2 separate regions of the Homo sapiens genome follow, and region 1 is linked to region 2. The links come from fine-mapping of genetic effects on gene expression. A gene starts in region 2. The other region holds a variant in brackets. All regions are shown on one strand. Distances are from middle to middle. Region 1 holds the start of LOC124904954 (a long non-coding RNA gene). Region 2 holds the start of STMN3 (stathmin 3).

Region 1 (4,374 bases), 22 kb before region 2:
CGTTTCTAGCTCTAGGCTGGGCCTGCAGTGAAGGGGCTGGCTCCCCGCCTCTCACCTCCCTGGCTTGGTGACACCGCTGTCGTCTCCAGGCAGCTCAACAGCATCGATGGCCCCCTCCAGGCGCAGCAGGATCACTGTGGGTCGAGGAGGTGTCACCCACCTCCTCGCAAGGAGGAGGCCCCACCCAGCTGCAAGGAGGCGGGGAGGGCAACACTTACTCTTCAGCTTTGCAATGTCTTCCAGCTCCATGTTCAGCCCTGGGCAAGAGAAAGGCAGCAAAGGCAGTCTGCATCACGCTCGTGCCAACAACCCCGCCCTTGAGAACCAGGATTCCTGGCATGGAAAAAAGGACACCAACATGGAAAGGAAGAGGCCACACAGAATCCATGCAGGCCAAATCCACCAACATGGGAAGGAAGAGGCCACACAGAATCCGTGCAGGCCAAATCCACCAACAGGGGAAGGAAGAGGCCACACAGAATCCGTGCAGGCCAAATCCACCAACAGGGGAAGGAAGAGGCCACACAGAATCCGTGCAGGCCAAATCCACCAACAGGGGAAGGAAGAGGCCACACAGAATCCGTGCAGGCCAAATCCACCAACAGGGGAAGGAAGAGGCCACACAGAATCCGTGCAGGCCAAATCCACCAACAGGGGAAGGAAGAGGCCACACAGAATCCGTGCAGGCCAAATCCACCAACAGGCGAAGGAAGAGGCTACACAGGCCAAATCCAAACTGGAGACACCAAGAGGAGCAGGTGTTTTATCTTTATTTATCTATTCATTTTTGAGACAGGGTGTCACTCTGTCACCCAGGCAGGGGTGCAGCAGCGCCATCTCTGCTCACTGCAACCTCCATGTCCCAGGTTCAAGCAATTCTCGTGTCTGTCTCCCGACTAGCTGGGACTATAGGTGTGCGCCACCATGCCCGGCTAATTTTCGCATTTTTAGTAGAGATGGGGTTTCACCCTGTTGCTCAGGCTGGTCTTAAACTCCTGACCTCAGGTGATCCACCAGTCTTGGTCTCCCAAAGTGCTGGGATTACCGCTGAGCCCTTATGCCTGGCCGGGTGTTTGACCTTTAGAATTAACATTTGTGAACACACCTGTGCGTATGGCTGTATCTCCACGAAAACACCCAGTAACAACGACCAACCCAGTAACCATGACCAACCCGCTGCCGCATGGCGGGTCTTGAAATACCGTCTTGCAGGAAAAGAAAGCAGGGCTTCTTGGAGACTTGGCTGATTCCAGGTCTGGAGCAGGACATGAGTGTGAAAAATCCTGACTCCCAGACAGCAAAGAGGCCACAACCGCCGGGGTCAGGACACAAGAGCCCACATGAAAACACCTCAAGGTGCAGCAACTGAGGTCAGGAGTGAGATTCAGGAGGGAGCATGGGGCAGGACCAATCCCCACGTTCACACACAAACATTCAGTGATGACACTTGATTGACTGATTGATTTTTGAGACGGAGTCTCGCTCTGTCGCCAGGCTGGAGTGCAATGGTGCGATCTCGGCTCACTGCAACCTCCGCCTCCTGGGTTCAAGTGATTCTCCTGCCTCAGCCTCCCAAGTAGCTGGGATTACAAGCATGCACCACCACACCTGGCTAATTTTTTTGTATTTTTAGTAGAGACGGGGTTTCACCGTGTTGGCCAGGATGGTCTCAATCTCTGACCTCGTGATCCGCCTGCCTGGGCCTCCCAAAGTGCTGGGATGACAGGTGTGAGACAGCACACCCGGCCCACCCCCAGCATTTGTCCCACCTTTCCTGTGTGAATGGGATCACCACATAGCTGATATGGTGCAGGGCGTGGTCCTAAGTTATTCCTGCTAACTGACTAGATGATGGAATTAGCACACTGCCATCTTGCAAGCCCCCAGTGATTAACATATTCAGGTGTTCAGCAGCAACAATGTTCACATGGGAAGAAACGGGAAAGGAGATACTGTGAGCCTTCTGATAGAAAGGACGTCCCATCTGGAGCCCGGCAAACGGTGGCCGCAGTCTAACTGGGGCCCTCAAGCCACCTAAGTTCAGAGTAAACCGGGGAACTCGTGTGGCTGCCCCTCCTGTACAGATTCCGACTCTGCAGGGTAAACGGCCTGGGCTCTTCAATAAATAAAGTGTGAGGAAAAGAATGGACCCTGCCAAGCACAGTGGCACACGCCTGTAGTCCCAGGAGCTTGGGAGGCCGAGGCAGGAGGATCACTTGAGCCCAAGAGGTGGAGGC[T/C]GCAGGAGGTGGAGGCTGCAGTGAGCCGTGATGGCACCACCGCTCTCCAGCCTGGGTGACAGAGTGAGACCCCATCTCCAAAGGGGTGGGGGAACAGATAGGGATGAAAACTGAAGTTCTGGTCCTGAATGAGATGGCAGAAGCCCACCCCACCACACGTCCCCCACTAGTTACAACAAAAAGCCCTGCACATCAAGTAACTAACAAAACTGAAGAGTGGAGAAGGCCCCGTGGTGATGTTCACACAGGCCTGGGGGTGGGTGGATGTTTCTCCCACGTTATGTAAGCGATGAAATGGCAGCTGCCGAGATGAGGGAAGGAGACCTGTCACTCTCCCCACCCTGCGCCAAGCGAAGGATGGAAAGAGGCGGCCGTCCACCCCGTTAGAGAGGTGGGGTTGGGGGACTGTGGAGAGGAGGGAGGTGGAGCGTTCAAAGTCCCAGGAACCCCTTCCCCCACTGCAACTCCCTGCGTGGCAATCTTGAGAGCCGGTGGCAGTGGTGCACACCTGTGGTCCCGGCGCTTTAAGACGCTGAGACGGGAAGATCCCATGAGCCCAGGAGGCCGAGGCTACAGGGAACTTTGATTGTACCACCACATTCCAGCCTGGGCAACAGAGTGAGACCCTGTCACTTAAATATATGTATATATATATATATATAAAGGGATTCTAAAGCCAGAACACCTGATAACTTCTGTACTAAACAAATGCCAACTTTGCAAACTCACTCTCTACCAAGCAGCCATCCTGGTGAGAAGGGTGAGGACGGGGCTCCCCAGGGTCCAGGGTCCCCGTGGTGTCCGTCCACATGTGCGATTTTAAAGGAAAATGGGGGAAGCTGATGCTGTTTACACCTGGAGATGCTCACGAGCAAGTAGTGTCACAGCAGAACCTATGAAGATATTCACACAGACTCCTAGTCAGCTGTTTACAGAAGCCATGTAGAAAATATGGACAAAGGCCGGGCGTGGCGGCTCACGCCTGTAATCCCAGCACTTTGGGAGGCCGAAGCGGGTGGATCACGTGAGGTCAGGAGTTCGAGACCAGCCTGGCCAACACGGAGAAACCATCTCTACTAAAAATACAAAATTAGCTGGGCGTGGTGGTGCACGCCTGTGATCCCAGCTACTTGGGAGGCTGAGGCAGGAGAATTGCTTGAACCCAGGAGGCGGAGGTTGCAGTGAGCCAAGATCGCGCCATTGCACTCCAGCCTGGGCAACAAAAGTGAAACTCCATCTCAAAAAAAAAAAAAAGAAAGAAAATATAGACCAACTGACAACATCCATGAAGGGTTTCCACGTTTTCCACGTATGCCGTGACTAGCGCTGTGTGGAAATACACCTCTGGACAAACACTGGGAAGGAACCTACAGGCAGAGCAGCTGATGCATGCCAGATTTGTGGGTCATTTAAAGATGCAAAATGCCCTTACAGTGAATATATTTAGTTTTCCTTTTTTTTTTTTTTGAGATGGCCTCACTCTGCCGCCCAGGCTGGAGTGCAGTGGAGTCATCTGGGGCACCGGAAGCTCTGCCTCCCAGGCTCAAGCACGCCTCCCACTTCGGCCTCCGGAAAAGCTTGGACCACAGGAGCACACCACCACACCTGGCTAATTTTTTGGCAGGGGCGAGGTTCCGCCATGTTGCCCAGGCTGGTCTCAAACTCCTGGCCTCAAGCGATGCTCCCAACTCAGCTTCACAAAGTAGAGTTTTCCAGTTTTACACAGTAGAGGCCAAGTTGATACTGGCTGGGAGAAGACATAGGTCTTTGGAAAATACCAGAACTACTGAACAATACCAGCCCTTCCACAGGCTACAGGACCCTGAAGAATTCACACCCAAGAAGCCTCTGAGAGAAGCGGATGCCCTGCAGTGCCAGCCTGAATAGATGGTGCCCAGGCCGACCACACACAGCCACAGGGCAGGCTGCCCACTGCAGTAGCACGGGCCTCAGGACCAAGCAGCCTGGCTATGAACGCACCTGGGCTGGGGGAGTCCGTGCTGAACTCCGGGTGGGGCTCACCCTGCAGCAGCGCAGGCCTCAGGACCAAGCAGTCTGGCTATGAACGCACCTGGGCTGGGGGAGTCCGCGCTGAACTCCGGGTGGGGCTCACCCTGCTGCGCTGCCTTGGTCTGCT
Region 2 (4,374 bases):
GGGATCTCGGCTCACTGCAACCTCTGCCTCCTGGATTCAAGTGATTCTCCTGCTTCAGCCTCCAAAGTAGCTGAGATTACAGGCACCTGCCACCACACCTGGCTAATTTTTGTATTTTTAGGGTAGATGGGGTTTCACCATGTTGGCCAGGCTGGTCTCAAACTCCTGACCTCAGGTGATCTGCCCACCTCGGCCCCCCAAAGTGTTGGGATTACAGTTGTGAGCCACTGCACCCAGTCAAAACATTTTTTTAACTAGCACTAATGTGCATGTGAAAAACATCTTTGAAATGCTCGTGCACTTTCTGCATTTGATCTTGGTGAGAAGTCAAAATCTGCTCCAAGACCTGGCACTATATTGGGGCAAACAGTCAGTACAGCTATTGTGTGCCTGCCAGCATGCTGTCATTACTCCTATTGCGTGTGCCTGCCAGTGCACTGAGAGTCAGTACACCTATGGCATGTGCCTGCTAGTGTGCTGTCAGTACAGCTGTTGTGTATGCCTGCTAGCACGCTGACAGTCAGTATGGCTGACAGTCAGTACCCCATTGCGTGTGCCTGCCTAGGTGCTGACAGTCAGTACCCCTGTTGTGTGTTCCTGCTAGTGCACACTGTGCACATCTACTGTGTTCCTGGCACTATGCCACGGGCTTCCACACACCTGGTCCCTGTGCTCCAGATGAGGACACAGAGGCTCAGAGAGGGCCTGGCCAGAGTCACAATGAGTGTGAGGCATTGCGGTGCTCTGAGCCTGACTGGGTGGGTCCTACCCCACCCACATGAGAAGACTCTGGAGGTCCCAGAGAGGGCTACTTCTCTTGATCCCTAGCACCTGAGCTCCAGCACCCGGGGCTGGAGTCTGCCTGAAGGATGCTGACCATCCCCAACTGCTACTGTGGTGGCCAACAGGGAGGACACAGCTGCTGTGGTGGGCAGCTCTGTGTGCCTCTCTGCCCTTCTTCCTCCTTCGCAGAGCTGGCTTCCTAGGAATGGCCCAGGGGCCAACACCTCTGTGTGTATATTAGTTTGATATGGCTTCATAGCAAATCACCACAAAACCAACAGCTTAAAACAACTCTCATTCATTACCTCCTAATTCTTAGTAACCCAAGGCTGAAACCAAGTGGGCAGTTGGGCTCAGTTCTTGTGTGGAGGCCCTGGGGTCAAACCTGCCTCCAAGCCCATTCTCTTCTTGTTGGCAGAACTCACTTCCTTGCAGTTAAGGTCTTGTTGTCTTGCTGGCTGTTGGCTGGGAGCAGTTCTCAGATCCTTGCCACGTGGCCCCCTCATCTCAACAACAGAAAACCTTCTTTGGTTTGATCCCTCCGATTTCTTCAACCAGGCAAAGGAAACTGCTTTTAAAGGGCTCCTGTGATGAGGTCAGGGCCCGCCTGGTGATCCTCCAGTCTTAAGGGTACCTCTGGGCCACACAATGTCACATTCCTGGGCATCACCCCCACCAGACTCACAGTCCCGGGGATGATGCCGGCTTGCACGTCAGGGGTCAGGACTCTCCAGGCCACCCTAGGATGTGACTGGCCTTGGGTGCTCCCACCGCACTGCTAGAGCTGAGGCTTGCCCCTGGCTTTTGTGTTGCTGAGCCAGCCTCATGGCTCTGCAAGTCTCCTGAGGTTTTCAGGGTTTTGCTCCTGGCCCTATGACTTAGTTGCTTGTAGGGCAAAGCACTTTTCTCCCTGCCTCGGTGGCTTCATCCCTGCAATGGCAAAGACGCTCCGTTTGCCTACCAGGCTTTCCCTTTGGGAGTTATGAGGAGAGGGGGAGGCAGGATAGGTTGCCCCCCACTCACTAAGTGCGCACAACCCTGGCACCCCTCCTCTCCATCGTCTGGGGGCATCATTGTTTCATCTTACCCCTGAGAAACAAAGGCCCAGCGAGGTCAGACGCTTGCCCTTGGCCTGGGCCACACAGTGAGTGAAGGTCTGAGCCCAGGCGGGAAACCACCTCTTTCACGGCAAAGCCTTTGTTCTGGCCTCACTCCTCCACTTTCACTCTTCTCCGCTCAGATCCTGCCCATCCCCTGGGCTCACAGGAGATGCCCCTTGGAGGCCTCCAGGCCAGCGCCCACCCCTGTGGCTGTGGCATCCTCTCCGATGGCAGGCACAGACCTGGACCCTGTTGGCGCCAGCCCAGCCTACAGCGGCCTTGGCGGCGAAGAGCTCTGCGGCCCCACCCCATGGGTGGGACCTGCTCCTCCGGCATTGCCCCTGCCCCGCCTGCCCTGGGGAATGGGGGCTCATCTCCACCCCCACCCCACTCTCAGGCCTCACAAAGCCAAGTTGGAGAAGCAGCTGTCCCGCTGTGAGCGGTTGGAGGGTGGGGGGTCTTGTTGCAGTTCGGGTAGCCCCCCTCCTCCGCCCTCTCCCCCTGAGAGCCGCGGCCCCTTCCGCAGCCAGGCGCTTGCTCCTCTCTCTCTTCCTCCCTCCCTTCCTCCCTCCCTCCTTCCCCCGCCCCCGCAGTCTCTCTCTCTCTCTCTCTCCTTCCCCCAACCCTCCCTCCCTCCTCCCCCCGCTCCTTCCCCCAACCCTCTCTCTCTCTCCCTCTGTCTCCCTCCCTCTCTCTCTCCCGCCGCGCCCGCCTCCCGCCCGCCCTCGCTCCCTCCACTCCTCTCCCCTCCCCTCCCCGGCACTGCAGCACCAGCCGTCTGCAGCTCCGGCCGCCACTTGCGCCTCTCCAGCCTCCGCAGGCCCAACCGCCGCCAGCACCATGGCCAGCACCATTTCCGGTAGGCTCCGGGGCCACGGGCTTTGTGGGGCGGCGGGATCTGAGCAGAGGCCTCGTCTGGCCTCGCCTGGGGCAGCGGCCGGCAGCGGACGCCAATTTCCCTTCTCCTACCCTGCGCGTTGCAAGCCTGGGCCCGACCCGCCCGAGGCTGGGGTCTGCGGCGCCGGCGGGGCTGGTGGGGCGCTGGGCTGCGAGGCGCCGCGCCGGGGAGCGCTCGGGACCGGGACGTCGGGCGGGGGCGCCTCGCCCCTGGGGGAGCAGCGTGCCACGCAGGGCGCGACTGCCGCAGGGTGGCTCCCAGACCCGGGCGTGGGCTCGCGACCGGGTGGGCGCGCTCGCGATGTGCGGGCGGGGTCCCTGGGGCGTCCGGCGACCCGAGATCTGGGTCCGCCAGAGCCTTCGTGGGGAGGCGGGGAGAGGGTGGGACCCTCTGCCAAAGCCCCAGCCGGGAACCCGGCGCTCCCCGCGCCAGTGCAGCACAGGGGCTGGAGGGGGCGCTGAAGGAGGGGGGCGGGCCAGACACGGCGGAGCCCGGAGTGAGGGGGACCGCGCCCTCCCCCCACACCGCTGCGGCCTCGGGGACCACCCTTTGCGACGCCCGCGCCACCTGCTCTGGCCAGAAAAGCCACTGCCCTTTGCGCCGCGGGGTCTGGATGGGGGAGGGGCGACTGCGATCCCCAAACCCTCCGGAGACCAGAGGGCTCCGCCCCTCCCGCCCCTCCACCTCCCGCGGGGCGGACCCACCGCCTTCGAAGGTAGCGCCCACCCCGGCCTCCCGGCCCGTCCCGCGCGGAGCTCAGGCGGAGGGGCGGGCGCAGGCCCGGGCGGGGGGCGGATTCTGGACGCAGGGGAGCTGCCGGGCGACCTCGGGCGCGAGGACGCTGGGCCCGCCCTTCCCGAAACGCTCTGCTCCGCCGCGAGGCCGCAGAACCCGCTTCGTTTTTCACTCGACGTTTGGGAGGACAGGACGAAGGGCCGCACCTCCTTCCCATCGCCGCCCCCGTTCACGAGCCGCACTCCCTCCCACCTTTTCTTACGCCCCCGGGACAGGTCGCCGCGGTCCCTCTCCCGAGCTGACTGGTTCAACTCGGGCGCCTTGGCCCGGGGCGCAGAACTCCGCCCACCCACGCGTGCCCGACCTGACCCCGCCCCTCAGGCCCCACGGGCTTGGAGGCTCCAGGTGACTTCAGCACCTGCCAGGAGGGGACCGTGTGTGTCACCGGCCACACCTCCCCACCCTATCTGGGAGTCCTGTCCATCTGCGCTTCCTCCCTCCGCCTCCTCCTGGACACCCCCGGGGATACTGGGGGTGGGGGGGCTCTCAGCGGAGGGGACTCCCCTCCTGCCCCTGAGGGCAGCGCCGTCCTCTCCAGGGCCGCCTCCTGCCCTTCCTGACAGCCTTTCCCTGACGGTCCCTCCCCATGGGCTCGGTTCCTGGGGCTGAGCTGGGAGGGCGAGGGCATCTCGGCATCTGGGCACTGGCTCCTCGCTCTTTTGTGGCCTCTGCTCACATTCTCCTTCTGCAACCCAGAGTCTGACCTCCTCCAGCTGTGTGGTGTTGTCCGAGCTGCCTAACCTCTCAGGACCTGGGTCTCCTTATCTGGGTAGAGATGACGGTGCTGGCACCTCTCCT

Evidence for each region. PIP is the estimated chance that this variant, and not a neighbour inherited with it, causes the effect.
Region 1: its variant is the best candidate, but not a certain one, in a credible set for the expression of STMN3 in fibroblasts (GTEx, PIP 0.66).

What each region holds. Positions count from the first base shown.
Region 1 is chr20:63,674,028-63,678,401 of GRCh38, reverse strand. It overlaps RTEL1 (regulator of telomere elongation helicase 1), which reads right to left. Exons shown (of 35, transcript NM_001283009.2): 10 at 4,309-4,374; 11 at 219-257; 12 at 56-134. It overlaps RTEL1-TNFRSF6B (RTEL1-TNFRSF6B readthrough (NMD candidate)), which reads right to left. Exons shown (of 38, transcript NR_037882.1): 10 at 4,309-4,374; 11 at 219-257; 12 at 56-134. It overlaps LOC124904954 (a long non-coding RNA gene), which reads left to right and starts at 27. Exons shown (of 2, transcript XR_007067717.1): 1 at 27-758. RefSeq lists a cis regulatory region at 1,817 and an enhancer at 1,745-1,889. The variant T/C (reference allele first, on the strand shown) is at 2,238.
Region 2 is chr20:63,651,695-63,656,068 of GRCh38, reverse strand. STMN3 (stathmin 3) reads left to right here and starts at 2,645. Exons shown (of 5, transcript NM_015894.4): 1 at 2,645-2,742. The coding sequence starts at 2,724. RefSeq lists enhancers at 1,307-1,985, 1,986-2,665, 3,942-4,374 and silencers at 2,808-2,857, 2,878-2,967.